Linked DNA regions of Homo sapiens: regions 1, 2, 3 and 5 are each linked to region 4. Evidence: fine-mapped expression QTL. A gene starts in region 4. Each other region holds a variant in brackets. All regions are shown on one strand. Distances are between the middles of the regions. Region 1 overlaps FRMD3 (FERM domain containing 3). Region 2 overlaps FRMD3 (FERM domain containing 3). Region 3 overlaps FRMD3 (FERM domain containing 3). Region 4 holds the start of FRMD3 (FERM domain containing 3). Region 5 has its middle 16 kb from the start of IDNK.

The links.
Region 1: its variant is fine-mapped to the expression of FRMD3 in whole blood (INTERVAL, PIP 0.91).
Region 2: its variant is fine-mapped to the expression of FRMD3 in whole blood (TOPMed, PIP above 0.99).
Region 3: its variant is fine-mapped to the expression of FRMD3 in whole blood (INTERVAL, PIP above 0.99).
Region 5: its variant is fine-mapped to the expression of FRMD3 in monocytes (Quach 2016, PIP 0.95). The same link has a PIP of 0.9 or more in monocytes after LPS and monocytes after Pam3CSK4.

What each region holds. Positions count from the first base shown.
Region 1 is chr9:83,289,131-83,295,394 of GRCh38, reverse strand. It overlaps FRMD3 (FERM domain containing 3), which reads left to right. Exons shown (of 14, transcript NM_174938.6): 13 at 4,668-4,792. It overlaps LOC124902190 (a long non-coding RNA gene), which reads right to left. Exons shown (of 3, transcript XR_007061614.1): 3 at 5,528-6,264. Among named protein-coding and RNA genes, the nearest start is that of FRMD3-AS1, 73 kb to the right of the region's middle. The variant T/C (reference allele first, on the strand shown) is at 2,686.
Region 2 is chr9:83,259,133-83,265,396 of GRCh38, reverse strand. The region is part of intron 13 of FRMD3 (FERM domain containing 3); the gene reads left to right. The region is part of intron 2 of FRMD3-AS1 (FRMD3 antisense RNA 1); the gene reads right to left. Among named protein-coding and RNA genes, the nearest start is that of FRMD3-AS1, 43 kb to the right of the region's middle. The variant T/G (reference allele first, on the strand shown) is at 2,899.
Region 3 is chr9:83,244,397-83,250,660 of GRCh38, reverse strand. FRMD3 (FERM domain containing 3) reads left to right here. Exons shown (of 14, transcript NM_174938.6): 14 at 2,145-6,039. The coding sequence ends at 2,743. The region is part of intron 2 of FRMD3-AS1 (FRMD3 antisense RNA 1); the gene reads right to left. Among named protein-coding and RNA genes, the nearest start is that of FRMD3-AS1, 28 kb to the right of the region's middle. The variant C/T (reference allele first, on the strand shown) is at 3,211.
Region 4 is chr9:83,535,660-83,541,923 of GRCh38, reverse strand. FRMD3 (FERM domain containing 3) reads left to right here and starts at 3,523. Exons shown (of 14, transcript NM_174938.6): 1 at 3,523-3,839. The coding sequence starts at 3,693. RefSeq lists a silencer at 5,276-5,570.
Region 5 is chr9:83,604,476-83,610,739 of GRCh38, reverse strand. No RefSeq gene overlaps it. Among named protein-coding and RNA genes, the nearest start is that of IDNK, 16 kb to the left of the region's middle. The variant T/C (reference allele first, on the strand shown) is at 2,938.

The sequences.
Region 1 (6,264 bases), 250 kb after region 4:
AGGCTGGCACTACTTCTTTTAATTTCAAGGAGGGATATAGGAACTCCAGGAGTCACTATTTTATGCTACCATTTTTGAGTCCTGAGTCTGCCTATATAAGCATCTTTTAGTTGAGTTACATAATGTCAGTTTCCTCACCTGTAAATATGGTATTTTTCTTGCCCATCTTACATGCACAATGAGAAAAACAAATGGGATAAATATATTCAAACCACATTTGCCCCAGTATTAGAATATAATTGTAGTTCCCAAAGGAAACCTTTCTATTTCAATAGAGTTCTTAATGACAACTTCATTTGGAGACCATTCTATGCTGGGAGTACATGCATGAGTGGGGCTGCAAAGCGGGCCAGATATTTTTGCAGAGTCATCTGATAGATGGATTCTGAGAGTGGAGAAACATGGCACGTATCCTAGCCTGGCCTGGAGGGACCTCAGGCATAAACACAGTTACCTCAGGAGTTCAGGTGGAAAGGCAGAGTGGAAGCTGACTGGGACATCTGCACATACTTCAGAAAGTGCCTGACACAGTGGGACCTCATGTAGCCAGAAACAGGAGGACAGTAGGGGTAGCAAGCAGAGTCTCCTTTGGGACATTGCAGGCCAAATCATGCAGAAAGGCAGTGTGCAGCATAGCAAAAGCCTTGGACCAGGAATCAGATTATCTGGCTTTGAGCTTTGAGTCCTAAGTTTGCCCATATAAGCGTCTTTAGTCACATTACATAAGCTCCCTGAGTCTCAGTTTTCTCATCTGCAAATATGACATTTACCTTGCCTGTCTTATAGGCAAGACGCACTAAGAGAAAAAGATGAGGTAAAGTTTATACAAACAACTTTGCAAATGAAAAGAAGATAGCCATTCAAATTTGCGTATTATATTTGTCATTAGTTCAATTGGGCTGGCGGGCTCTTGCTTTAAATGAAGCCAGGATCAGTTGGCACCTTTAAAAAGTTTAAAGAGAGAATTAGGTAAGAAGGTGTAATCTTTAGTTTAAAGGAGTTGGTAGATTTATTAGTCCAGTTGGGTTGCTATAACAAAATACCATAGACCAGGGTGGCTTATAGACAACAGAAATTTATTTCTCACAGTTTTAGAAGCTGGGAAGTCCAAGATCAAGACACCAGCAGATTGAGCATCTGGCAAACACCTGCTTCCTCATAGATGGTGCCTTCTTGCTGTGTCCTCACATGGCAGAAGGGGGAAACAAGCTCTCTCAGACCTCTTTTATAAGGATACTAATTCTATTCATGTGATCATGACCTAATCACCTCCTGAAGGCCCCACCTCTTAATACCATTACATTGGAGTTTAGGTTTCAACAAATGAATTTTAAGGAAACACAGACATTGAGGCCATCACAATAGCGAAAGGTGGGAGACTTGGCCTGTTGTTTTTTAATGTTGCTGACTCTTTCCCCCAGGCTGTCAAAGTGCCTCACATTGGGCTGGGAGCCCTGGATTCTTTGTGCTTCAGGGAAATCCCTAGTTGTATCCACCTTTGGGTTTATCTGAGTCTTATACTTATCAGGGAAGAAATGTTCTTCTCTGAGTCATATTATTGGAGAGTCTCAGGGTTGTAATCCACTGCAGGAGTCACCTGGTCTAATACAAGGCACGTCCTATATGCCCCTGTCCCTGGCCATGGGCCTCTGCTACACCAGAGAAACAGGAGCCTATGAATGTAGGGGCCGAGCTGGCATCCTCCTGGCCATCTAATGCCAAGGCAGGCTCATACCTGGGATATCAGCCTGGTGAGCCCAGCCTGTCTTAGAGCTAGGCAATTGTCTGGACATTGCAATGTTGTGGGTTGGGGGCAGCAGGATGCTTGGTATCTCCAGCTACAGAATGTTGGAAGGAGGTCTGATGGGGAGCAAAATAAGCTCATAAAGGCTCACCGAGGGCCCATCGTTGTAGCATAAGCAGTGATTCCTGGGGATAGGAACAGCAGCCAGTCCAGCTGGCATGGATGGTCAGAGGTGGAGTAGAGCAATTCAGAACTGCACGTGCAAGAATGGATGGATGGGCTTTTCAGAGGTCAGAAAGCTACACAGACCACACAGGAATGACAGTATGTTGTCCTTGCAGAGTTAGAATCATAGTCATGAGTGGCCATGACCAGAAGAAATCCCAGGAGAGCTCAAAAACTGAGAACCCTTCACAATAAAAGAAGAAACTGCTCATGGCGAATTTTTATCCCTCCCTTCCTCCCTCCCTCCCCTCCTTCCTTTTGTAAAGATTTCTCTATCTACGGTTCTTTCCCTGTAGAAAGCACTGTGCTCACCAGAACAGCTGCAGGCCTTGCCTCCCTTGGGAGATCACTCCTGGCTCTCTCCTCACTCACACCGGATTAGGTGCCCCTCCTTTGTGCTCCCATGGGACCCTGGCCATCAGTCACCTTCATGAGAGGCACGGTGTTCCAGCTGTGGCTACAGCACATAAAGGAGTCATGTGGCTGGGCGTGGTGGCTCACGCCTGTAATCCCAGCACTTTGGGAGGCTAAGGTGGGTGATCACCTTAGGTCAGGAGTTTGAGACCAGCCTGCCCAACATGGTGAAACAGTCTCTACTAAAAATACAAAAATTAGCTGGGCATGGTGGCAGATGCCTGTAATCCCAGCTACTCGGGAGGCTGAGGGAGGAGAATCACTTGAACCCAGGAGGTGGAGGTTGTAGTGAGCCGAGATCG[T/C]ACCACTGCACTCCAGCCTAGGCGACAGAGTGAGACTCCGTCTCAAAAAAATAAAAAATAAAAAATACAAAGTTGGGGGTAGTTATGAAATAAAGTAGTGATCAAGACTGGGACTTAAAATGAACTAGAATTTTAAAATAGTGGATTATACATAGATATGTAACTATTGTTCCATAAGACATTAATTTCAGTTGTGCTTCTTCCTGTGTGTGTTTGGGTACAGGGAGATTATATAAAATGTGTTTCTTGGGGCTGGGCGTAGTGGCTCAAGCCTGTAATCCCAGCATTTTGGGAGGCCGAGATGGGCAGATCATGAGGTCAGAAGATGAAGACCATCATCCTGGTTAACACAGTGAACCCCGTCTCTACTAAAAATACAAAAATTTAGCTGGGTGTGGTGGCACACACCTGTAATCCCAGCTACTCGCGAGGCTGAGGCAGGAGAATTGCTTGAACCCAGGAGGCAGAGGTTGCAGTGAGCCGAGATTGCACCACTGCACTCCAGCCTAGGTGACAGAGCGAGACTCTGTCTCAAAAAAAAAAAAAAAGTATTTATTAATGTAGGTCTCAGACCAGAAAGCTTAAAAATTATGGTTCTAGACAGTGAGTTACTTAAGGTGAGGACTACAGTTCTCTGGAGCAAAGCAGAATGTCCAATTTGTATATATCAGCTGCAGAGTAAATGGCTGTAAAATGAAATAATGAAGAAAAGGACTCCATGGCTAAGCAAGTCCTCATAAATTTCCTTTCTAGCCCATGCCAGCCATGGGAGCTTTTAATTCAAGATGGTAGCAGGCATCTTGCTGTTCCCCACTCCTGCTGCCCAACAGAAACACTCAGGCTAGAAGGTAGTCCTGCAGCCGGTCTAGGGAACACTCTGACCAGGCTGAAATGGCAACATATGTCAAGCCAGGATTGCATTTGGTGCACTTTAGTTTCAAACCTGAACACATTTTCACAAGATGCCAAGTGAGATGCACAAGTATGGCTGGCTCAGTCTCTGCCCTTAAGGTGCTTATCTAGGTGGGGATGATCAGTACACCAATAACTAGACAGAGACAGAGGTGAAAATGCAGTGAGTTATGAAAGAAGAGAAAGTAGTCAAAGAGAGGGAGAGGAAGGGAGAGAGAGAGAGAGAGAGACTGTGTGCATTGGGAGGAGCAATCTGGGAAGGCTTCCAGGGGAAGGAAACATTTGACTCCTTTTTAAAGTATGCACTGGTTTTGGTTTTGACAGGAAGCATGGGGAGTGAGGAAGGGTGTGCAAACATCCACCTGCAGGCAGACTAGGGCAAGCAGCTAGTATCTCTGCAGCAGGTAGGGCAAGCGGGCTCCCCAGCTCCCAACCAATAGGCTTAATGAGATACCTGCACAGTTTCCTTGCCATCTGTTGCTAGTCTCAGCCAGACACACCTGCATGCTCCTTTCCAGAGGAGAAAACAGAGCCATGGCCAGTTAGTGAGTAGGGTGTAACTTTGAGAATATTAAACACTGATATTAAACATTGGACATCCAGCAACACAAAGATAGCTTATAGCTGTAGAACATCTGCATCATCTATCTGGCAGGGGTTTTTGTTTTTGTTTGTTGGTGGTTGTTAAATTTCTCTGAGCCATGCCCTTCATTCACTTTTCTACATATCTAGTTCAGTGCTAGCTACCTCCCATGTCTTTTTGTTTCTTCTTTCTTTTTTTTTAAAAAACGCCCAGGCTGTCACCTAGCATGCTCAGGGCTGGTGATGTATTGGGAACTGTATTTTCTTTCGTTGAGTTGCAGTAGAACATAGGGACATTTGGTCAGGACCTTAAGAGCAGAAAGGGCCATTTATCTTGAATGTTACGTCATCTTTACTACTGGCTCAATTCACTGTGTCTGGAGGTAGTTCCCTGTAGACACAAAATGGTAGCTTGGGCAGCCCGCTGAGATGGAGGGGCCAGCATTTGTGATGGAAACCAACTCTGTCTGGCTTGTGTCTGTTTTCAGAGCCAACATTACTCAGAGCCGCAGTTCCCACTCCTTGAACAAACAGCTCATCATTAACATGGAACCCCTGCAGCCCCTGCTTCCTTCCCCCAGCGAGCAAGAAGAAGAACTTCCTCTGGGTGAGGGTAAGTCTGTCTCTTCATCCCAAATGCTGGTGCTGCAGGCTTCCTCTGGAAAAAACAAGGGAGGCGCCAATTCTGCATATGATGGGTAATTGATTAGTGTATGGGGTGGAGTGGGCCATAAACTATGTTTTTAGTAAATAAGCTTTTTGCAGCTGGAAGGCTGTATTATACTGGGAGCTCTATTAGTTTCTCTTGGAGAGACTTCACTGGTATAAAGTATTTCTAAAATTATATATGAAAAGACTAATGGTGTTAGACCTACACCAGTCCAGTACACTAACCATTAGCCATGTGTGGCTGTATTAAACTAAGTTTAAATTCATTGTAATTAAAAATCCATTTCCTCAGTCACAATAGCCAGATTCTCAGTGCTCAATAGCCACATGTGGCTGGTGGCTGCCATATTGGACACTGAGACTGAGATAATTTCCTCTATCACTGAAACTTCTATTGGATGTTGATGTCTGCCACTGTAATCACAATTAAATTGGTGGCAATAAAGAGTTCTCCACAAGTATCTCTACACTCGTCATCCCATTTATTCCCCCAGGCTTCTTGTTCTTGATCCTTCATTTACATTGTCCAACAGTTTTGATACAAGCTAAAAAAAAGTGAAGTGTCCACTGCAACCCCCACATTTGTTATATTTTTAAAGATAATAATAATATGTGTGTTTCTAGGCATCTTTGTTTTTAAGGACTCTCCTTACTTCAGGGAAGAATCTCACCACAATGCTTGCTGCAAACACCTGCAGACATCTCACATTTTATTAATTTCAAAGATTTGTTTAAATTAAGTTGATGAAATTAATTAAATTGAAAACAAATGCACACAAAATAAACTTATTGGAACCTTTGAATACAAACATGCTTTTTCTTAACTTTGTGATTCTGGTTTCATCGTTGAAAATCTGGATACTGGGCAGTTTCAAGAGGGCAGATCACTCTGTCCCCAAAAGATCACCTTCACCTCCAGCTTCAAGTCAAGAATTTATTTCACAGGAGAAAACTTCTTAGTCTATAATAAGGATATGGCTTGGAATGCAGATACCCTTGAGATAGGTAGCAGCAACCAATTTGCAGTGACACATAAAAAATTCTAGTAAATCTTTTCCTGAAAGGCAGCTTTGATGGTTAGAAGGAGAACTAGGCAACTGGATGCCCAAAATTCCATGGGTGGAGGAAAAGTGTGCAAAGTATGAAAGATGGGATCTTAGAAGACACTACTTGTCTTCAACTGGGCTACAAGAGATGATGATAATGAGAACACTCTTGTTATAAATGGCTTTTGTTATCTATCTTAACAATGAACTCTGTAAGTTCCATGCCAAATGAATTTCCTTAGCCTAAGGGCCTCTGGGTCCATGTTGCTTGTCTGTGTTTTTCAGGAGATTATCTGTTTTTGTGTGTTTTGCAAATGAAAGAAAAGCAGTTTTAATTTCTGGTCACTAAGGGTTTTCTGAGTTTCTTCCT
Region 2 (6,264 bases), 280 kb after region 4:
TAAGAGTCTCGCTCTGTTGCCCAGGCTGGAGTGCAGTGGCACCATCTCGGCTCACTGCAAGCTCCACCTCCCGGGTTCACACCATTCTCCTGCCTCAGCCTCCCGAGTAGCTGATATTACAGGCGCCTGCCACCACGCCCGGCTAATTTTTTGTATTTTTAGTAGAGACGGGGTTTCACCGTGTTAGCCAGGATGATCCCAATCTCCTGACCTCGTGATCCGCCCGTCTTGGCCTCCTATAGTACTGGGATTACAGGCATGAGCCACCGCACCTGGCCGACACGGGCACTTTTTATATGCACAGAGAACTTCTGTATGTGCAAACTATTTGCTTTCTGTATATTTTAGGTTTCTGTTTTTATGTTAGTTTTCCCCATGCCAAGATTATAAAAGTGTTTCCTGTTTTTATTCTTCATAATTAATGCATTTACTTGAACTCTATGAAATTGCTGATAATAACTGCTTATGACCTTCAAAATTGGCAATTTCACGTGGTATCTAATTTTTTTTTTAGTTTAACCCTTTATCTTCTTAGGAATTTTTACACGTGCATGACATGGTATAGGGATATACCTTCCCCCCTCCCCCCACAATTGGTTAGCAACTTTTTGCAAAACTTTTTCATAAACAAATTTTCCATTATATTAAAGGGTATATTTCTGAATTATATCTTTTATTATTCCTGCTCCATTACTATACAGTATAGTTTTAATATCAGGTAGGTCAGGTTTCCCCTGCATTGCTTTTTTTCAAAGGAAGTTATACTTTTAGAATGATTTTTAGGTTCACAGTAAAATTAAAAGGAAGGCATAGAAATTTTCCACATATGGGGAATTTCCCTCACACATGCTCAGCCTCCCCCATCATCAACATCCCACACAAGAGAAGTACATTTGTTACACTTGATGAGCCTGCATTGAGACATCATGACTATTCAAAGTTGATCGTTTGCGTTAGGGTTCACCTTGGTGGTGTACATTCTGTGGGTTTGGACAAATGTTTAATGGCATGTATCTACCCCTGTTGTATCATACATAATAGTTTGACTGCCCTAAAAGTTCTGTGTTCCACCTATTTCTCTCTCTCTTCCCCTAATTCCTGGCAACCACTGGTCTTTTTATGATATTCATAATTTTGCCTTTTTCAGAATGTCAATTAGTTGGAATCATACAATATGCAGTCTTTTCAGACTGGCTTCTTTCACTGAATAATATGCATATAAGCTTCCTCTATAGCTTTTCATGGCATTTCTTAGCACTGAATAATATTCCATTGTCTGGATGTGCTCACTGATTTATTTTCCAGAAGTTTTTGATTATTAATGTGTACATTTACCATTTGTCTTTTTTGAAAGTGTGTTGGATTTTCTATTGAAATTGCATCAAATTTTAGATTAATGAGAGGAGAGCTGAATTTTCAATGTATCAAGGCCACTATTCAGGAACAATATTATGTTTTTCTATTTATTGAGATTTTCTTTTATGCTACTTTGTTATATTTTAACATTGTCCTCATGCAAGTTTTCCAGGCTTCTTGTTATGGATATTCCTGGATATATATGGATGTTTTAATTTGTGCATTTGGCTATTTTGAATGATACTTTCCATTATCATTTTTTATATTGTCTCTTCTGTATGCAGTAAACCACCTGCTTTAATATGTTGATCTTGCATTCCAACACCTTTTTAAACTCTTATTAATTGTCCTGTTTCATTTTCATCTCTTTTCTATGTAGATAATTCTATTATCTGGAACTAGAGTTTTGTGCCTTACTTTCCAATATTTACACTTCTTATTTTTTGTCTTCATCATATTGCATTAGCTAGGGCCAATACTGATGTGTGGTGATAATTCTTTGTAATGTTCCTGACTTTGGTGGGAATTCTTCCAACGTTTTGCTATTATATAATGTTTGCCATGACATGTAATGATTTCTACAATTCTCTAGTAGATATTTCAAGTCCCTTCCTTTCAGGAGATAAAATTTTAGTGGAAAAACCCATAATAAATCTGCAGCACAGTGTAATGACTGACTGTGAAGATAAAGAGATCCAGAAGATGGTATGACAGCTGCATCACTTAGGATGCCATCATCAGCAAGTAATGAGGAATTCTAATTAGCACTGGTTTAAATAATAAGGTGATTTATTATCCAAGACAAGTCCAGAGTCAGAGAGGATTCCAGGGTTGAGGACCAGTTTCATTTTATCTCTACATCACTCTTCTCAGTCAGCCAAGCTTCCCCTCATGCCGTTGCTGTCAGCACCATAGGACGGCTGCCAGTTTCTGCTGTTTCTTTCAGTTACAACAATGTCAACAGATAAGGAGTCTGTACCATTCCAGGATGATCTTCTTAGAAGTAAAAACCTTTCTCAAAAATCCATCCCCTCAGGCCCCCTCCCCTCTTCCCCTTTGATTTTTATTTTCAGGGTTGGCCCATATGCCCGTTTTAAAACCAAATGTGACCAAGAGACTGGAATTACCACGACTGGCTTAGACTAATCATTTGGAGAGAAATGGGCCATAAGGAGTCAACCATGAAAAGTACCAGATAAGTAGCATATATCTCAGTCCGGGAGTGGGGGATAGGAGAGCCTTCCCAGAGGACATAACACATAGGGTCTTAGAGGATGAGTAAGAGCTATCTGGGTGCAGAGGACATTCCAGGAAGAAGTAGCAGTCTGTGCAAAGACACAGAGGCATGACATAGCATGACACATATGGGAACCCCTCAATAGGTGGGCAGGGAGGAAGCGTATGTGGTAGAGTAATGCTTTTTGTACCAGGCTAAAGAGTTTAATTTAATATTTAACCTGAAAGGCTGAGAAACCTTTTAAGAAGAGGACTGATATAAATAATTAGGCATTTAAAAATGATTATTCTGGAAACAACTTACAA[T/G]AAGCTGGACTGAAATCAAGGAAACCAGTTAGGAAGCCATTGCTATCATCCAGTTAAGAAGTGATAAGAATGGAGAGGCAGGGATAACTTTGAAAATGAAGAAGGTGGCAGAGTTTGCAGAAGTTAATGACAGATGTGAGCAGTGCATGAAAACAAGTAATTTTGGCCAATCCTTGGATTGCTGATATAAGAAACTGAAGAAAATATGGTGTCATTTACTACATAGTGTGTGTTATTGGAGGTAAAGAGTTGGGAGGGAGATGATGCATTTGGGTTTGGATGTATTGAAGTCGATGTTCCTATGTACAGTTGCCTGGTAAATCTCATTGGAGGGTTCTGAGTTGAGATAGACCAGAGATTCAGCAACATGGATTTTCCAAACTAAGTTGTGTTCTATGTTCTCTGGGAGAATTAATTTGAGAAATATTGAGTTACATGAAACTGATTTCTTCTATTCAGGACCTTGCAGACATTTTTATATACTAGTAGTAATATTATTGAGTGCTTACCAGTGTCAGGCACTTTGCATGTATTAACTCAGGTATTCCTCTCCACACAATATCTGCATGCAGTATGTGCTGAAATTTTCCCCATTTTACAGATGAGGAAACTGGGAATAGCACAATTAGGTAATTAAGAAACTGTCGGTGGCAATTAGTACAAAGCCAGGATTCGAACCCAGAAAGGTGACTTCAGAGTTTGGATTTTTAACCTTGATGGTAATATCCAAAAGAGTGATAGAGTGTGCAGTTTCCCAAACTTAGCTGACCATGGAACACTCTTTTCAAGGGACAGCTGGCAGAACCTTAAGGGACACTGGTGACCTGTAGTACCAGGTTGAACAATACTGTAGTAGCATATTGGAGCCATAAATATGGTTGAAACACCAAGAAAGAGGGTACAGAGCAAGAAGAGCAGAGAGTTTAGGCCCTCACAAGTAGTGAAGAGACTGTGAAGACAGAGGTAGCTTAGAATCATTGGATGGAAACCAAGAGAGTATGGAACCTCAGAGGTTGAGTGATCTGTAGGAGGACAGAAGAAAACACTCATTGGCTTTAGCAATATGGTGATCATTGGAGACTTTGTGAGAGCCATTTCAGCAGGTGGGGAGAGCAACTGACCATGGTGTCAAGATGGTCAGCAAAAGTAGAGGCATAACCAAGAGGCTGGCAAATGATGGCTACTTGGAGAAGAGAGAGTTTAGTCTGCAAGGATGAAGCCTAAGGATGGGGAAAGAAGAACAAGAAGAATGCCAGCCTATGCTGGCAGCCCTGAGTCCCAGGAGAAGATGTTTACATGAGAGGCAGTGTTCCAGATTTCAGCTGGGGAGCAGCGATGGGAGAGTATTAGGATCTGCTGTGTGTGTGTGTGTGTGTGTGTGTGTGTGTGTGTGTGTCTAAGTTTCCTTTTGTGGATACTTTCCTGAGTCACTGGAATGACTCTTCATAGGTTTTTAATAGAATGAATTGGTGACTCCCAAAGATATTCAGAGGCACCAGGAACATTTGTAGTATTAGATCTTCTGCAGTGTCCATTGCTGAAAGTAAAAACTCTCATCTGGAAAAGTAAATGTCATTCTTAGGATTTTTCTTTAAACCCATGGGACAGGAGTTTCGCTTGAAGTATTAAACTTTATCCTCCAAAAAGGAGCGATAAAGGAGTCACATGTGAGGTTAATGGTATACTATCTTACTAAATTTTAGAAGTCTGCATGCTGCTTATTGTGAATAGAAAACATTTGAGGGACTGATAGAACATGTAGAGAGTATAGTAATAAAGTTTATTTTATTTCTAACCTAAGTCATTAAGTCCCGCAACAGCCAGTGGTTTTTGTGTATGTGTGTGGCTTCTATCGTGGCTATGATACCATCACAGGAGAGCTTACTTATAATTAAGTTATCATAAAATTTATTTGAGAGTGAAAAGGGAATTTTAACAATACTGCCATACTGACACTATGACAGACATAGAGTGGGACTGTTCCAGGCAAATGGGGATGAATGGGCACCCTACATGTAAGGACACCATGGGTTCAGCAGATGAAATGGGGCCAGTAACAGAGAAGCTTCTTCCCCCTTAGTTAAGAAGTGAGAGTCTCTCTGGGCTTCTCAGATCTCCTTCTCTTCAGCCAACATGGTAAGTTTGGAGAAAGCATGGGCTTTGGAATCAGACAGGCATGGATACAAACCTCCGCTCTGTTGCTTCCTAATTTTGTGACCTTAACTTGCCTATGCCTCATTTTTCTCATGACTTATGAATATCACATGCTCATATATTTAAAGTATCCAGCCGAGTAGACATTTATTAAAAATCTTAGTGCCCCTGTCTCCTTTTCTCTTTCTACATATAACTTTAAGTAGGACAGTTTATGGACAGACATAGTCTAAGATGGAGCCACAGAATGCTGGACTGGGGAGGGTCTGGTCCATTTTGCAGGTAAAAAGTCCAAGACTATAGAACTGAAGTGGCATGCCTAATGTTGTTCAGATAGCCGTGGCTTAGCTGGGAACCTGAGTCCAGGTGTCTTAGGCCACTGCTCTTTTCACTCCATCATATTTTCCAGAAGTGGAGTGGTGATCTGCTCTTTTTTCCTCTCCCACTCTTCCTTCACCTTTCTCCTTTTTACCCTGAATTCAAGAGTACAGCATGCCTCCCAGAGCAAGTATTGCCAAGATGATCAACATTAGATCACTCAGTTTAGCCCACCTCAGGAGGAATGGGTCTGGTTAGTAACAACTATGAGACATCTATAGAGACCTGACAGTTTCACATGTGCTTGAGCTGTGGTTGTCATACTTTCAGGTCCAGTGTCCCCCTAAAAAACAAAAACCTTGTAATGTTCTCGCTACCATCCTGAGGTGTAACTTTTAGAAAACACAGTCTACCTACACTTAACTAAGTCAAAATAATGCTCTAACTGTAATATAAGGAGAAATTAGGAGAAAATTATTTATAATAAGAATTTCCAAAGGTTTTTCTCAAGCATGACTCACTAGAAGGCAGAATCAAAGTGTGAGATACTTTGAATAAGGGGAAAATGGGCATCAAGGGAACCACCCAACAGACGCAGGGTGGTGACATGTGCCATGAGGTAGGCAACTCAACTCCTTAGCATCCCTGATGATGATGTGATATTCTGAACTGCTAAATCCTCAGCAAAGATCTTCCCTGAATTTACCCAGAGGTTGTATTCCTGAAAAACTTAAAATATGTTAAAATTACACCCCAAATGCTTTTTGTTTAAATGTAAAACAGATCATTATAAATAGGTGTTCCATCTGTATGGATAATATCTGATATCTGACATTTGAAAGTTGTGTGGTATACAAAATAATTCTTCATTTTGTGAAATTCTCCTACACATTT
Region 3 (6,264 bases), 290 kb after region 4:
GCAACTGAGTCAACTAAGCTGCATAGATGGTAGCCATCCCTTTCCCCAGGAACTTAGACCCACCTCAAGCAGACTCCAACCTACTGCCATTAGCTGGCTGGGATTCCAAGCCAGTGGGTCTTAACTTGTGAGGTGCCATGGAAGTGGGGCCCACAGAATGAGGCTACCTGGGTCCCTGGATTCAACCACCTTCCTAGGGATATGTACAGATAGATTTCCTGCCTTGCCAGGGATCCTGGGGCCAGAGTATGTAAAACTCCTGGGTCTCTGTGTGTGCCTGAGTGGCTGCTCTGCCGAGACTCCACACAGCTCTGTGTATCAGACCCAAGGCCCTGGTGGCCTGGGCTCATAAGGGCATCTCCTGATCCGCAGGTTGCAAAGATCCAAAGGAGAAGTGTGGTTTCCTGGGTGGGGTCACACAATCACTCAACACTGCACTTGGCTGGGGGTCGGGGTGGGGTCTCCTTTGCTTCTGTGCATCTTCCAGGTGGGCCATCACCCCCTCTTCTGCTTTTCTTTATTCTCTGTGGGTTGAGTTGTTTGCCCAGTCAGTCCCAATGCGAGAACCTGGGTATCTCAGTTTGAAGGTGCTGCATTTACTAGCCCCTTTTTATTCATCTCCATGAGTGCTGCAGACCACAGCTGCCTCTAATTGGCCAGCTTGGGTTCCAGCGTTCTGAGTACCTGTTTTTAAGTCTTTGGAGTATGTACCTGGGAGTGGTATTGCTGGGTCATCTGATAACTTTATGTTTGATTTTTTGAGGAACTGTCAATTTTTTTCTCACAATGGCCAGAACCAATTATAGTTTCACTGGCAATATGCAGGGTTCTAATGTCTTCACATCCTCACCAACACTTGTTATTTTCAGTTTTTAAAAAAGCTGTTGCCATCTGAGTAGGCATAAAGTAGCATCTTATTGTGGTTTTGACTTGCATTTCCCTAATGATTAATGATGTTCAGCATACTTTCATGTGCTTGTTGACCTTTTGTATATTTCTTGTATTTTTATGGTATTTTTCATTTGGACTTCTCAGTGCTATCAGACTAGAGCTATCATGAAATATCTGTTGATTTTTGAATGCTAAAACCAGTAAGTTATGCCTGTACACCTTGAAGAGAGAAAAATCACATAATAGATTCATTAAAAGCTGGTTTATGGTTCCCGAAATGCACCTGGCTGCCATTTTGATTGTATGGTAGATCCATCCTGGAGGACACTTCTTTGATGCTAACTTTATTTCCCACTATGGATCCAAGACTCAAAATTAGCAGAGTTAGCCCTAGGTCTGACCATAGGTAACTCGATTTCCCATCAGTAAAATGAGGCATTGAGAAACACCTCTCTCTCAATAAACATTAGAAAAAGTTCTTACCCTTTGATTAAGCAATTTCCCTTCTAGCATCTATCTATAGCAAATGAACTAAAACAAGAGGGGAAAAAAAGCTTTATATGTAAAGATGTCTCATAGCATTTTCTCCTTACAACTGCAAAGCAATCTAAATGTTTGACAATAGGCAACTAATTTATTGCATAACTAAATAAAAAATTTGGCAGCTTTTATAAATAATACCAATGGGAATTTGTTTAAACATAGAAAATATTTATGTTAAAATTTTAAATGCAAGGAGCATGATTTAAGCTTGGGTATATAATATGATTGCAAATATATAAAACTAGAACACAAAATTGTGTCTAGAATGAAGACTAGAAAGCAATACATCAGAATAATAAAGAGATTGTCATTGAATGACAGATTCTGTTGTTTTACTATAATATATCGGGTGATATTGTTGACCTCTAAAAAAACAGTGCTCATAATTATAATAGTGAATTTATTGTCATTTTATTCAAGCAAACATGGCCAAGGTTCAAGGTTTGCAGATCAAAATTGCACACCTAAATGTTGTAAATATTGCCAACCATTTGAGAAGTGTTGGTTAGTTTGAGTTTAGCATGTTGACCTTTGAACTTATGGTACAGGGTCTTTTACTATAATACGACTTTGTTACAACTTAGGATACCACAGAATAATTTCATAGATTGCTTGAATCCCATTAGTTTTTTGTTTTTCTGTTTCTTCCTGCAGATTTTTGTGGGAAAATCTGAAATTTTAAATTTAGAAAAAAAAATGTCTCTTTACAGGTGTTCCATTGCCTAAAGAGGAGAACATTTCTGCTCCCTTGATCTCCAGCTCCCCAGTGAAGGCAGCCCGGGAGTATGAAGATCCCCCTAGTGAAGAGGAAGATAAAATAAAAGAAGAACCTTTAACCATCTCTGAACTAGTGTACAACCCAAGTGCCAGCCTGCTCCCCACCCCTGTGGATGACGATGAGATTGACATGCTCTTTGACTGTCCTTCTAGGCTTGAGTTGGAAAGAGAAGACACAGATTCATTTGAGGATCTGGAAGCAGATGAAAACGCCTTTTTGATTGCTGAAGAAGAGGAGCTGAAGGAGGCTCGCCGTGCTTTGTCGTGGAGCTATGACATTCTGACTGGCCATATTCGGGTGAACCCACTGGTCAAGAGTTTTTCCAGGCTCCTTGTGGTGGGCCTGGGACTGCTGCTCTTTGTATTTCCCCTGCTCCTCCTCCTTTTGGAGTCAGGTATTGATCTCTCCTTCTTATGCGAAATCCGCCAGACACCAGAGTTTGAGCAGTTTCACTATGAATACTACTGTCCCCTCAAGGAGTGGGTGGCTGGGAAAGTCCACCTCATCCTCTACATGCTGGGTTGCTCATGAAGTTAATCTCTCACGTGACTAAGGGCTATATTCAATGCTAGTGATTTCTTTTTTTCAGCAAATGCCTGGTTCTGAAGGGTCACGGGGCTGTCAACAGGTGTTCCTTACTCATAATTGATTATTCAAACCTTTAAGTTAGCTTTCCATAATTCACTGCACTTAAATAAGTTTAAATCAAATACAGTTATTTTAGTTACAGGTTAGGAAGATGGTCTTTAAATAACCAAAAATATGTTTATTTTTTATTATAGTGTAGACATACCCTTCATCTATTATATCATAATACATGTTACATTGGACTGAATTAGATTTTCCCATTTCTAATAGTTGGCACCATTATAAGCTATAAGGTTCAGAATCAGAATTTTAGTAACAACTCAAGAGAAAGTTGTTGAATATAATCCTTAGTGAAAACAGTGTCCTCTAACCAATGCCTATACAACTAAATTTATGCTGGGTTTTTGGTT[C/T]TGTTTTTTTAAAAATATTTTTATGTGTTCAAACTATTTTGGTAAATTTTTAGCAAAAAAAAAAAAGAAGCCTCCTGGAGTTATTTACATGTACAGATTGTAAGACTAATGCACAAAAGGTATATCAGAATTTTTTTAATGTTTTGGCGCTACTTTGTTTTTAAAAATATTTTTGGCTGAACAATACCATAATTTGTTATGATCTGCATAGGAGATAGAAAATGGGTAGAAAGACACTATAGTAAGTAAGCTGCTAAAACAGAGGATGGAACTGGAGGATGTAGAAACTGAGAGCATCAAGTGGACTCAGGGTGGTCCATTTTTCAAAGTATTTGGACAAGAGGACTTGTTATTTTCATTTGTATTCTGTCCGTATATTTTGGCTGGAGAAGCAGATGTTTTAAAAAGAAAGTGAGAGTTTAAAGGAAAAAAGGTAACAGATGTGCTAGTCAGTTGCATATCAATGTACATTAACCCAAGAGTGAAGGCAGATAGGAACTGGAGAAATGGAAAGTGGCAAAAATGAGTTCTGGTGAGGCTGGCAGGCAAATGGTGACAGGCGAATGGTCTATTTTATGAAAGTGATGGTGATGCCAGCGTTCGATGATGTGAAGAGCAGTGCAGTCGCTGTCTGAGTTAACATGAACATGTTTAAGTGGATCTAAATAAAAGTGGAGAAACTTTAAGGTAAATATTTTGATCCCTCATGCCATTTGTTGTGATTCTGTAGAAGAAACTTCAAAAATGTGTTTGTATGTGAGTGTGCGTGTGTGTGTGTGTGAGAGAGAGAGAGAGAGAGAGAGAGAGAATATGAATGGCTTTTTGATACATGTCCATGATCATGTTTTGCGGTGGTCATTATACTCCTTTCCTTTCCCAGTTGTTTTAAAATTTGACTTCCATAGAGAAACTGGAGAGGCCTCATGAGATGACATACCAGTTCAGCCTGGGTAAAGTAGTGACATGACCCTAACCAGACTGTAGAGGGGACCAGTGCTCTAGTACCTTCCTTGATACCATTAAATCCATGATGGAAAGGATTTAATCCAACAATTTAATGGTATCAAGGAAGGTACTAGAGCATTGTACCATCAGCAACGTACTGATGCCTTCCCATGCAGACTACCTGCTGATACTGTGTTATGTGGGAGAAAGATAAGAGTCTAGAACTTATGCCATGGAGCATAGAGCTTCTCTGTGGATTGAAAACATTCCACTGCCCTAATGTACAAAGTTACAGGGCCCACTTGGAATCGCTCTCTCTAGCTAATGACATTCCAACCCTATCATTAGCATGATTTCTAAATTGGGCAATACATTTCCACTCACTCAGTGGAGCTCTGAGTACTTCACTGGACATTTAATTTTGGAAATGAGTTTTGAAACTCAGTTCGTGAAGCCTGCAGTCGAGCAAATGACTATATATTTGCCATTAAGTTTGAGGGGTTTCCTTTCCTATATGCTTTCAGTGATTTATTTTGCTTTTTAAATAAAGATTGTTTGTTTATTACCTGAAAGTTGATACTGATTTAGGAATATATTTTCTGTGATTGGAATCCTCAACAATTTATTTTGGAAGCTTGCAGATGGCTAGGTTTGAAATTGAAATTTGTGTTTTTCTCCTTCTTTTCTCATACGACTTCTAAGTCATCCTTTCTGACATAAGGCAACTTTAGTGTAGTCTGCACAAAATTAGTCCCCTTCTGATCATGCGTCATATAATTTTCTCTAAAGTTCTGACTATGACAAATCATCTGGCCCTCAGTCTTTCAAAATAATATTATATAATATTTTTTAAATTATGGAACTAATATATTTTCCATTGTAAAATACTTAAAAAATATGATAGTATAAATATCACATGTAATCCAACGATGCAGATTTATCTTAAGGAGTAATAAATATATTATTTTAACATTTCCAGCTAACATCTCTTTTCTCTTAGGTGGAAACTTCATTGTTGAATAGAAATGTTTTTAAGTGAAGAAGTTGACAGAATAGGGTCTGCTGAATTTAAACAGCCATCAAAAGTTAAACTGGAATCTTGAAATGCCATTTGCTCGGCATAGAATCAGAGCCTTTTAGAAACATCCATTTAAGTTTTGTTAGAAGATAGTCACCAGTTGCCTGAATCGAATGAGGAAAAGCCTGCTTCCAGAGATGGACAGTATATTATAGAGTGAGATATAGAGTTTAAAGCAAGTGTGTGAGTATATGTATATTCCATATTATTGGTATATGTGTGTTTATATATGAATCTGTATATATGTGTGTCTTTGAATAGACACAACATATATGCCCCTCATGCATAATTGTGCTTATTTTGCCCTAATTGAGGAATTTGAGATGTATTATTGGTTCTTCTCCCTCTCAGATACTATGGTGGGTAAAACCCACAGCCTGAAAGGGTTAAATTTTCCATAAATGCCACTGAGTGTACATTTGTGGATATAAATAAATATATATAATACACACACACATATGGCAAATACATATACACACACAATATTGCCTTTAGTGCTAATGCAAGTTGGATCATGAAAACAATGTAGGTAAAGTAAAGTATGTATTTGTCTGTGCTTGAAAAATATTGTAAAATGTTATGTATTTGGAATATATTTTGTGGTTTGTCTAATATTTATAAACACAACTCGGGGTGAATTCACAATGAGTTTATTTCATTGAAATACTAGAGATATGGGGGCCATGTTACTGTGATTGGAGCCTTACCTTTGTATAGTGAAATTTGCATTTCTATGTCAACATCCAGATTGTTTTATATGTTAATATGGTGGCAGGAATCCCTAATAAAAATACTCTGGGGTAAAATTTTTTGCAATCATTCAGTTTTATTTAAAGTAAAGTTGTATAGTCAGGTTGTTGGAAACTATAAAAGGATTCCCTCTAGGACCATGAAATGAGGTCAACATATAATGGTGATAGTATTAAAAAAAAAAATCCCAGGTAATAGATTAGATTAACCCTTTGCAGAAGTCATCCAGGCCCAAAGCAGGAATACTAGCACTGAAAATATGCTCAAACATAAAATAAACC
Region 4 (6,264 bases):
TCTGGTTGTCTTTGGGGGACAGGTTCAGATTTGGGAATATTTGTAGGGGGATTTTAGCCTGGCCTTTGTTCACCTGGTGTAGAAATCTTGTTTGTCCTATAGATCAAATTGAGTCCTAGTTGGATGCTTGGCCACCAGCAAAATCCCTATGAGTCACACCATTCTGAAGTCTACTTGGGTACCACTGCTTATGATTGTACCAAGCCCTCCCTGGCACTGAGGGTTAAGTCATGCACCACTATTTGTCTTCTGCCAGCCCAGGCTCTCATCCTTCCCATTTAAGTCAGGGAGCTCCTTTTGACTGCAGTGTCTTTCACAACCATCTCTTGCTACAAAGAACAGCCACTTTGGTGCTTTTCAAAGATGGCAGTCCTTCCTTTGCCAATGATTCTTTGAAAATCTTGGTGGATGCCCCCTCAGGGGACACAGTTAAAGAGAGGTAAGCTGGCCACATGTGGAAATACACTGCAATATTTCCATCTCCTTGATTCTTTGGATCTTTTCCTGTACATGTACCAGGGAATTTCCTTTTTCTCATCTTCATTTAGCTGAGTCCAGAAGTCAGTTAGTCAATTTAGATAGTACATTGAAACCAGAGTCATTGGGAAGTGAATTCAAATGGACAGATTCAGGTTTATTCACACATATACTCTTCAATGTAAATTAGCAGAATCTTGCAATTCTTTCTCTTCTTGGGGTTGACTTTATAGTTGGTCTCCTAGGGTGTGACTGAATCTGGTTCAAGTATTAAGAGTGAGAGTAGTCAGAGATGGTGGGAGAGGGGTGGGAGGAGATCGGCTTCCCTTTCCAAGGTAACTGCCTTAAGTGAGTTCCGAAGAGGATCTTCAAACAAAGCAGGAACAGCCTCGTTACATAAGGAAGAGGGCATGCTTCTGCTGCCAAGGGAGTTTGGGGGCTTGAGTGACTAGGAATCATTCAAGTTTTCTTTTATAGTCCTATTCTTATTCCCAGATTCCCACTCTTTCCTGCTGATAATTATAAAATCTTGTGAGGCCGATAATTCAATTGACTTTGTAATTTGGCGATTTGTAGATGAAATTGTGAATTTGGTTTTTCAGTTTTGGCCTTGTGGCTCAATTAACAAGATATTCTTTGAGCTCTGTTGTTTGTAAAAATACAGTTGTTTAAAAGTCATAAGCTGATAATTTAGGACTTAGTGCATCACTACTTTTCTTTCAGTGGTCCAGTTTTAAACTCATCCCTTGAGTTCATTCTTTGAGTTCTTCCTAATCTTCATATTATTATTATTATTGTTGACAATGGCCAGTTGGTTTCCCAGAGCCTTGTCTTCATTGGGTAGTTCAATCCAGGTGACCATACTTGGTAATTTACCTAGCTGTCATGCCAAGTGCTTCCAGAGCCTGTATTTTCATACTAGTTGAATCTCAGCCTTTATTCCTAATCAGGCCAGACAACCAATCTCAGATTCTTCTCATTTCTTCAAAATTCTGTTTCTTACAGTCCCACATTGGGTTATCTTTATTCTGTCTTTTTCACTACTGTCCTTGTTGGTCTTATTTTGCTTCCTTGGAATTTGGGGTAACAATTTTTGGGTATTGATATGACTCTTTTGGAGCCTAACGGTCACTATAATAGGATGGACAAGTGTGTGTGTGGTCTTAAAAGAAAAGCATGGACTGTTTGGCTGGTGACTTTTCTTTGATCTCTGGGCTGTCTGCTCTTTTGGCTAGCAGAGATGATCCAGTTTTCAACTTGGGGCAGGTCCCATCCCTGCCACCTCATATGTGCATATGGGGATTTACAGATTACAGCTGTAAGATGTCCTCCACTGACCCGGTGTCATACCAGCTTCCCAGCCACCTGTGGGATGAACAGGTGTTCTCTCCTTTGAAATGAGAAAAGAAATGGAGAGACTTTTCAAAGATCCCCAGGATTAGCCAGTAGCTGGGCCAAGAATGAAATCCACATCTTCCCATACCCTCAATACTGACCTCTCCATCAGGATCTGCCCTAACATTTGAAGGGCCCAGCTCAAGAGCCTACATGAATGCCCCATACTATCATCTAAATATTCATAAGCAATAGTCAGCTATTGAGTGCTACATAAAACATTCTCTATCCTCCTATCTTGACAAATTGTTGCAATTTGGAATTTCCAGGAGCAGATACTGAGACTGAGTTTGTCCTGTGTGGTATTTATTAGTGATCAACAGGGAGAGGAGGCAGGAGCAGGCAGAGAGAGAAGTCCAAATGCAATGCGGACTCCCCCAAACCTTAGCCAACCCCACTAGGTGTCCTAGAGAATATATGGCCCACCAGACTGTCCAGGGCAGGTAAAATTTGTGTGCCACTCTTCCTCGACCCCCAGGACAGGGCATATCTTTGGATGAGGGGACTCTATGCAGGCACAAACCTTGAAAAAGCTGACAGCTGGTCAACACCTCCTCTTCTAACAAATGTTCCTTCCTAATGACCTGTTCTGCTCCGGCAAGAGCAACAGGGTGAGAGGACTTCCATCTCTCCCAGCTCCTGGACATTCTAGTGCTCACATTCAAGCTCCATACCCCTGACTCAACAGCTGCTCCTGGCCACTCTCGGGCCTACGGTACCTGACACAGTGGCTCTAGCCACCTTGGGGACAACAGAGAGGCAGGATACCTCCTACCTTCAACACCCTGGAGGCGCGTGGGGAATTCCAGAGTCCTCAATACCCAGAGATTGGACTAAAACGGGATGGGGCACATCCGCTTTGCCATTAGACCTCTTAATTCCTGAGCAACCGGGAACTGGAGGAGGTCTGTAAAGCAGGGGAGTAGGATAGGAACCTATCCCTCTTGCTCGGGTCAAAGGTATGCTATCAAAGATCACACTAAGATGTTGGGAGATTTAAAGGAGGATTTGCACATGGAAGGCTCTTTTTTGGAGAAAGAGACTGAGTCCTAGCTAGCATTAAATAAAACAATGGCTTAAACAATCTCCATGAGTACCAGAGATTTTTACTATTAGCGATATTCCTGGTGTAGCCGTGTCAGGGCTGTCACTCTCTCTGTCACTCGCCCTGGGCCCAGCAATCCTTTCCCGAGGCGGAATCCCCCTGGCGGTGTGGGTCAGGATCGCTCTCCGTCCCCTACCCGCGCCAGGTCCCTGGAGCTGAGCAGAGCAGGGCGCTGTCGAGCGCGTTGGGGAGCCGGGGCCGGGACGAGCACAACCGGGAGCCCGAGCGACAGCGGCCAGGGGAGGGAGGAGGCGGTGAGGCTGAGGAAGGCAGTCGGGCCCAGCTTGACGCAGCGGCGGCTGCGACTGAGCAGGCCACCACCAGGGCACCCGGGCCAGCCGCGCCAGCCATCCCTCCGCCTCCTCCTTCAGCTGCTCGGCGCGCGTGGGAGTGAGTGCGTCGCGAGCCCGCCGGGGGTCTCAGGCTCTGGGCGTCCTCGGCGAGCGAGCCCGGGCAGAGGGAGGCGCACGAGCGCGCGCGACAGAAGGAGGCGGGGAAAGGAGGGGGCGAGGCGGAGGCGAGCGAACAGAGGGAGGGACCCGCCCGCCGCGCCCCGGCCGCTGGGCATGTGTGTCCGCAGGCGCCCGACGCTGCCGATGTCCCGGGGCTGAGCCGCGCCCAGGTGTCCCGGACAGTGCGTGCGAGCGTGTGTGTCCGCGCAGGCGAGCACCGCGCCGGCCCTGAGCCTCCCGCTCGCTCCCCACGGCCGCGGTGCATGTTCGCCTCCTGCCACTGTGTGCCGAGAGGCAGGAGGACCATGAAAATGATCCACTTTCGGAGCTCCAGCGTCAAATCGCTCAGCCAGGAGATGAGATGCACCATCCGGCTGCTGGACGACTCGGAGATCTCCTGCCACATCCAGGTGCGCGTGGAACCGGGCGAGGGCGCGGGGCACACGCCGGGAGCAGGGCGGGGGGCCTTTGCGGTGGGCATGCGAGAACAAGGAACCCACTCCCGGAGGGGATTGGGGGACTGCTAGAAAGCCAGATTTCGATTCCTCAGGCCTCTGAGGGTGGGGGGCCTTATCCTGGCATGGAGGGGCATGGTGCCCTGCAAGCGCCAGGCACGCGTTATCCGCGCCCAGTCTCCTTCCCCTCGCGTGCACCCTGCGCGCGCGTCTCACTGCGCCCGGGCTAGGGGCGCGGGGCAGCTGCCTCCGGAGGGACTCTGGCCCCTCTGGGCCCTACTCCGCCAGGAGATGGGAGCTCCGAGGGCTGAGAGGGGCACCTGCATGTCGCCCACTGGTATTTCCTCCCTTCTTCCACGTGGAGAAGGCATGCATCAGCTGGGTTCACTCATTTCTGTCTCCCGCGCCCAGGCTCCGGAGACGCCCTCAGTCCCGGAACCTGCTTTCCGCTCCGTGTCGGTCCCCCTCACCCTCCGCCGGTGGTCTTTAGTTCTCCGCGTGGGGCGGTGGCGAAGTTTCCCCAGAGTGAGAGAGGCCGGGCTGCCCTGGGCGCCAGCCTTGAGGGATGGAGCGCGCGCTGCGCCGGACTGGAGCTACCTCGAAAGGAATGTGTGAAGTCTGAGTGTTTCGGAGAAAGGAAAAGGGATTGTGAGGCCAGCAAGTGGGGAGCCCTGCAGGAACCTGGGTCCTGGGTAAAAGAGCCCCGTGGAATCTTGGTGGACATTCACTGTCGCCCAAGTTGGAGGAGAAGGCGAGTTGTTTGGGAGAAGGCAGCTTTGCTGGCAGCCCTGTCCTCGGGTAGTAAGTGCCTCTGGGCTGTCAGGAGAGCTAGTGTGAGGTGCAAAGGTGTGTGTGTGCATGTGGTTGCGCGTGCGTGTGCATATTTGCTGTGGGTGAATATGTAGGCAGGTGGGAGCCCCTCTTCCAGGACCCCAAAGATGCCCCACTCGGTGCGCACACAATCAGGAAAGGTTGTGTCAGGGCTCAGCACAATTAACTTCTGACTTCTAAATCTATTTAACTGTTTATCTCTGGGATTTCCTTTCTCACCTACCCTAGTCGAGTCTTGAGGCTCTGGGACTGAGCTTTTTTTTTTTTTTTTTTTTTTTAGTGTAATACAGGGCACACCACCCATGTCAGTGGGAGGTGAGTGGGGCAGCATCTCCCAGAGTAGGAATCAGCCTCTAGGCTGTGCAAACCATGAAGGAATGAAAGGACTTTCCCTGTTTTATTTTTATTTAATTTTTGTTAGTGGGAGTGTGTGACATGTTGGGGGCAGTTGCAATTAATTTGTAACCTGACAGCCGGACAAGTGTCAAGGTAGGAATGTGATGCCCCATGATCTCCCAGGAAAGTAGGCTCCCATTGAATTTTCTGGGGGAGCTTGAATTTCATTCTGAGCTAAGCAGCACTGCTAAACTTAATAATAAAAGGATTAGCAGGATAGGCAGTGTTTCTACTGCCACAAGGGTTGCACAGAAGCATCTGGCATGTACTAATAGTCTTGTGATCCAGAGAGTGTGGACTGTGCACTTTGCTTTAAGTCCTAAAGTGGGTGTACAGGTCCTTTAACCCATAATGAATGTGTAGATGATGGAGGGGCCGTCAGGGAGAGAGGCTGTTGAGTTCTCCTCTGTCTCTCAGCCCTCTTCTGCCCTGTACCACTTGGTGTTGACATTTTTTTCCCCTCCCTCAGGATGAAGTCTTCCTTAGAATAATAAATATTCCCCAAAGGACATGTATTTGTTGTCTTGTGTTTTGAGAAACAATAAATTGTAGCCAGTCTAACAACAGTTTGAAAAACTCCAGTGCTTATGACCCAACTAGTGCCAAAGAGGTTAAAATGTTATGTTTCAAAATGTTGGCTTGGGCACTGATTTTTAAAAAATTATGATGTTTCATTTTGTGATTTGTCTTTTTCTGCCCTTTCTGCCCCCAAATTACAATTATTATTTAACCAATTAAAATAAATTAAAATATTTTATTTGGATAACTTTAGACCTCACACTTTCCTAGAGTACTCCAGACCAGGAATTGAAATTGCCCTTCCGGGTATCAGGTAACAAAGACTTCCCATTTGCTTAGAGTGAGAACAAAAGGATTAAAAAACAATGCGAAACAAAACCATTTGGAATTACTGGCACTTGTTCTGGGTGAATCCATCTGTGTTTGCTTCCTTCCTTCTATAGAACTACAAAGTTAAAGGATTGTATATATTGTCACAGAATGTCACCCTCTCTCCATAGCCCACATCTGCCTGTCTGCGTTAGGAGCTCTCATCCCTGGTGTCTGCCTGGCTCTGGAGCAGGGGTGTCCAATTTTCTGGCTTCCCTGGGCCACATTGGAAGAAGAAGAATTGTCTTGGGCCACACATAAAATA
Region 5 (6,264 bases), 69 kb before region 4:
CAGGCAACATAGGAAAACCTTGTCTTTCTCTCTTTATATATATATAAAAAGAAAATATGTCAGAATATTTAAGTGCCCTGGGTCATTATAAATATCAATGATCATCACATAGGGTTGTAGTTACCTATTGCCACATTACAAATTACCCCAAAACGTAGCAGCTTAAAACAGCAAACATTTATTATAGTACAGTTTCTGAGGGCCAGGAATCTGGACTGGCAGTGAAGCTGTCAGTAGGGCTGCAGACTCATCTGGAAGCTCAGCTGGGGAAGGTGCTGCTTCTATGCTCACTCACATATTGTTGGAGGCCTCAGTTTCTTGCTGGCTGTTGGCTGGAGACCTCAGCTGCTCGCTACATCTGTTTCTCCATTGGTTGCCTGAGTGGCTTCACAACATGGTAGTTGGCTTCCTCCAGAGTGAGTTATGAGAGAGAGACAGAGACAGAGATAGAGAACCAAGATGAAAGCCACAACCTTTTATAACCTAATCTTGTGTCACAGTCACTTCTGGAACAATATGGGAGGGAATTATACAAGGGTGTGAATGTCAGGAAGTAGGAATTATTGGGGGTGTTGTCTTGGAGGCTGGCTACCACAGACAGAATTTATAATGGAGTAAATCCTCCTTTTAAAAAACATTATTAGTTGTAGTAAAAAAAAAAGCCCCAGAAAACTGTCAAATACCATATGTTCTTACTTATAAGTGGGAGCTAACTAATGTGTAGATATGGACATAAAGTGTGGAATAATAGACATTGAAGACTCAGAAGGGTGGGAGAGTGGGAGGGGCTGAGGGATGAGAAATTACTTATTGGGTATAATACACAATTCAGGTGATGGTTATACTAAAAGTCCAGACCTCACCACTGTGCAATATTTCATGTAACAAAATGGCACTTGTACCCCCTAAATTTATACAAAAAACCCCCACAAAACAAAATTTACCACCTTAACCATTTTTGAGTGGACAGTTGAGTAGTGTTAAGTGTATTCACATTGTTATGCAACAGAGCTCAGAGCTCTAGAACTTTTTCATCTTGAAAAATGGGGTACTTTCTTCCCCCCAGCTGCCAGGTGTGTGTGTGTGTGTTTTAAATTTCAGTAGGTTTTTGGGGAAACAGTTTGTGTTTGGTTACACGGATAAATTCTTTAGTGGTGATTTCTGAGATTCTGGTGCACCCTTCACCTGAGCAGTGTACACTGTACCCAATGTGTAGTCTTTTTATCCTTCACCCCCCTCCCACCCTTTCCCCAGAGTCCCCAAAGTCCATTGTATCATTCTTTTTTTTTTTTGGGGATGGAATTTCACTCTTGTCACCCAGGCTGGAGTGCAATGTTGTAATCTCAGGTCACTGCAACCTCTGCCTCCCGGGTTCAAGTGATTCTCCTATCTCAGCCTCCCGAGTAGCTGGGATTAAAAGTGGCCACCACCAAGCCTGGCTAATTTTTGTATTTTTAGTAGAGACGGAGTTTCACCATGTTGGCAAGGCTGGTCTCGAACTCCTGACTACAGGGGATCCACCCACCTTGGCCTCCCAAAGTGCTGGGATTACAGGCGTGAGCCACTGTGCCTGGCCGATTGTATCATTCTTATGCCTTTGCATCCTCATAGCTTATAGCTTAGCTCCCACTTATGAGTGAGAACATACAGTGTTTGGTTTTCCATTCCTGAATTACTTCACTGTACTTTGGCCTCTTTCAGCCATGGTTGGAGCGGCCTGGGACACGCAAGTCTCTAGGCTGCACACAGCATGGGGACCCTGGGCCCAGCCCACAAAACCACCTTTACCTCCTGGGCCTTTGGGCTCTTATGGGAGGGGCTGCCGTGAAGTTCTCTGACGTGGCCTGGAGACATTTTCCCAGTGGTCTTGGGGATTAACATTAGGCTCCTTGCTACTTATGCAAATTTCTGCTGCTGTCTTGAATTTCTCCTCAAAAAATGGGTTTTTCTTTCTACTGCATCATCAGGCTGCAAATTTTTCTAACTTTTATGATCTGTTTCCTTTTTAAAATGGAGTGTTTTTTCTTTTTGAGACGGAGTCTCACTCTGTCACCCAGGCTGGAGTGCAGTGGCACGCAGTCTCTGCTCACTGCAAACTCCGCTGCCTCCCAGGTTCAAGCAATTCTCCCACCTCAGCCTCCCGAGTAGCTGGGACCACAGGTGTGTGCCACCATGCCTGGCTAATTTTTGTATTTTTAGTAGAGACGGGGTTTCACTATGTTGGCCAGGCTGGTCTCGAACTCCTGACCTCATGATCCGCCCGCCTTGGCCTCCCAAAGTGCTGGGATTACAGGCGTGAGCCACCGCGCCTGGCCCGGAATGCTTTTTAACAGTACCCAAGTCACCTCTTGAATGCTTTTCTGCTTAGAAATTTCTTCTGCCAGATACCCTAAATCATCTCTCTCAAGTTCAAAGTTCCACAGATCTTTAGGGCAGGGGCAAAATGCCGCCAGTCTCTTTGCTAAAACATAACAAGAGTCACCTTTGCTCCAGTTCCCAACAAGTTCCTCATCTCCATCTGAGACCACTTCAGCCTGGACTTTATTGTTCATATCACTATCAGCAGTTTTGTCAAAGCCATTTAACAAGTCTCTAGGAGGTTTCAAACTTTTCCACATTTTCCTGTCTTCTGAGCCCTCCAAACTGTTTCAACCTCTGCCTGTTACCCAGTTCCAAAGTCGCTTCCACATTTTCAGGTATCTTCTCAGCAATGCCCCACTCTACTGGTAGCAATTCATTGTATTAGTCTGTATCCACACTGCTGATAAAGACATACCTAAGACTGGGAAGAAAAAGAGGTTTAATTGGACGTACAGTTCCACATGGCTGGGGAGGCCTCAGAATCATGGCAGGAGGCAAAAGGCACTTCTTACATGGCAGCAGCAAGAGAAAAAGAGGAAGAAGCAAAAGGGGAAACCCCTGATAAACCCATCAGAT[T/C]TCATGAGACTTATTCACTATCACGAGAATAGCATGAGAAAGATTGGCCCCCATGATTCAATTACCTCCCTCTGGGTCCCTCCTGCAACACGTGGGAATTCTGGGAGATAGAATTCAAGATGAGATTTGAGTGGGGAGACAGCCAAACCATAACAAAGTCTTTGCCTAAGTCAATGTCTAGAAGCGTTTTTTTCCAATGTTATCTTCTAGAATCTTTATAGTTTCAGGTCTTAGATTTAAGTCTTTTATCCATCTTGAGTGGATTTTTGTATAAGATGAGAGATAAGGATCCAGTTTAATTCTTCTACATGTGGTTTGCCAATTATCCCAGCACCATTTGTGGATTAGGATGTCCTTTCCCCACTTCATGTTTTTGTTTGCTTTGTAGAGGATCACTTGACTGTAAGTATGTGGCTTTATTTCTGGGTTCTCTATTCTGTTCCATTGGTCTGTATGCCTGTTTTTATACCAGTACCATGCTGTTTTGGTGACTATGGCCTTATAGTATAGTCTGAAGTAGGGGAATATGATACCTCCAGATTTGTTCTTTTTGCTTAGTCTTGCTTTGGCTATTCAGGCTCTTTTTTGGTTCCATATGAATTTTGGGATTTTTTTTTCTAGTTCTGTGAAGAATGATGGTGGTATTTTGATGGGAATTGCATTGAATTTATAGATTGCTTTTGGCAGTATGGTCATTTTTTGTAATTGATTCTCCTCATCGAGGAACATGGGATGTGTTTCCATTTGTTTGTGTCATCTATGATTTCTTTCAGCAGTGTTTTGTAGTTTTCTCTGCAGAGGTCTTTCACTTTCTTGGTTAAGTATATTTCTAAGTATTTTATTTTATTTTTTTGCAGCTATTGTAAAAGGGGTTGAGTTCTTGATTTGATTCTCAGCTTGGTCACTGTTGGTGTATATCAGGGCTACTAATTTGTGTACATTAATTTTGTATCCTGAAACTTTGCTGAATTCATGTACCCAGGGGCTTTTTGGATGAGTCTTTAGGGTTTTCTGGGTATGTGATCATGTCATCAGCAAACAGTGACAATGTGACTTCCACTTTACCAATTTGGATGCCCTTTATTTCTTCCTCTTGTCTGATTGCTCTGGCTAGGACGGATACTTTCTTATACCTGTATTTCTTGTTGATCAGACACTGGTAGACGGCATTACCCTGATTTTGTGCTCTGTTTGGTTTAGATACTTCTTTCTGCCCCTGTCTGTGGTCTACTGACTTAGTGGCCCCTTTTTTCACTCCGCTCTGTACCAACATCCCTTGCCCTTACCATGTGACTCTGCAGTCCTCTGTGTGAAGCACTGTGCCCCTTGTCTTTGGGCTTGGCCATCTGACTTACTCTGGCTGATGGAGTGAAGGCGAAGGTGACAGTGTGCCAGTTTTGAGCCTAGGCCTTAAGACGTGTCACTTTTTCTGCTTGACTGCTTATGCTTCTGCCATCACCTTGAGAAGAGTTTGCTGCTGCCTACGAGACTGTTATCTCCTGCCCCCTAGAATTGACACACATAGAGCAGATGTAAGCCCAACCTGCTATGAGTAGCCCCAACCAGTTAGACCTTTACCTTAAAGCCAAGCTGCCCAGCTGAGGCAACTGCCAATCAATCTGTAGATACCTGGGTGGGCTCAGCTGAGAGGGCAGAACCCATAGCCGTGTGAGAAGTAAATGCTGAATGTTGGGTGTTGCTGATATTTGTGGTTGTTTGATACAAACTGATGTTCTGCCCTTTTCCACTCTGACTTCTGCCCCACGGGTTCCCAGACACACTCACATATCATCACTGTTTTTTCTTCTGCACTGTCATGACACCTGTCTACTGTTTGAGTTGACTGCAGCAGGTTCCAGAAGTAGTCTATTCACTGAGGATGAGCAGGAAAAGAATAACAGTCCCTCAGAATTACAGACATGAAAAGTACCTCAAGAGTTTCTGCACACGGGGTTTCTGGAAAGCAGCTGGTACTGCTGTGAATGTTCCTTTTCCTCCTGGGGAGCAGAGTCACATTCTGCAGAACATCCACTGAATATGCTGAGGCAAAGCATTTGCCATGGTGATGTTTTGTGCAAGATGGTGCTTATTGATTAACAATGGCCTGGTTCATGATAGATAGTGATGGATTCAATATGGATGAATTTATCACGATTAGCAATAATGTTGACTTGATACAATATGCTGATGATTAGTTTATTTTTTATATCTTAAAGGATCATTCATAACCTTTTCCATAGTCTTCTTCTGACCCTCTGCACCTCCTTCCCAACTTCCTCTAGGATTGTTTTTTTTTTGTTTGTTTTTTGTTTTGCTTTTTTTTTTTGAGGCAGTCTTGCTCTGTTGCCCAGGCTGGAGTGTAATGGTGTGATCTCTGCTCACTGCAACCTCCACCTCCCGGGTTCAAGCAATTCTCCTGCCTCAGCCTCCTGAGTAGCTGGGACTACAGGTGCCTGTCACCATGCCTGGCTAATTTTTTGTATTTTTAGTAGAGACGGGGTTTCACCGTGTTAGCCAGGCTGGTCTCGATCTCCTGACTACGTGATCCACCCGCCTCCAAAAGTGCTCGGATTACAGGTGTGAGCCACCGTGCCCGGCCAGGACTGGGGTTTTGAGAGGACTGGCATGTCTCTAAGTATATTTCATCCTTGATATGGTTCATGTTTATAGCACCTAGCACACTGCTGCATTCAAAATTAGTACTTGAACGCCAGTGACCTAACACAGTGCCTTTCATGGCAACTGCTCAACAAATAAATAAACTTATTGGTTAAATAAGGTAAAAAAGGAAATCAGTTCTGTTGGCTTCAATTTTCTAATCTGTTAGATCAAGGGGAGAGGGTCAGTGAAGTAGATGATTCCTAAGGCCCCTCTTTGGCTTGAGCCTTTATTACACTTCTGAGACACAGTAGCTGGGGTTCTGGGACACCTGGCTCTGCCTCTAGCTGTTGGTCTGACCCCTGAAATCCCACCACCTGGTGAGTGGGAGAGGGAAAAGGAGAGGCTTACAGTGATTCAGATGCAGGGCACGGCACTTAAATACAGCATCTCATTTACTTTTCACAGTGACCTTGTAAGATTGGGATTTAGCAGACGAGAAAACAGGTGCCGTGAGGTTGAAGAACTGCTTAATAAATGGTGAACTGGGGGCTTGAAAAAATTCTTGTCTGACACTAAATCCAAAATCCTTTCAGTTTTAACCATAACATCACATGATTCAAGGTGATTTATACAAGGACCTTGGTTTTAATAGTGTCCTATTACAAATTTGGGATGGATAATTCCAAGCCCATTTGTTTTTACAATATATACCTTATTTAAAAATAT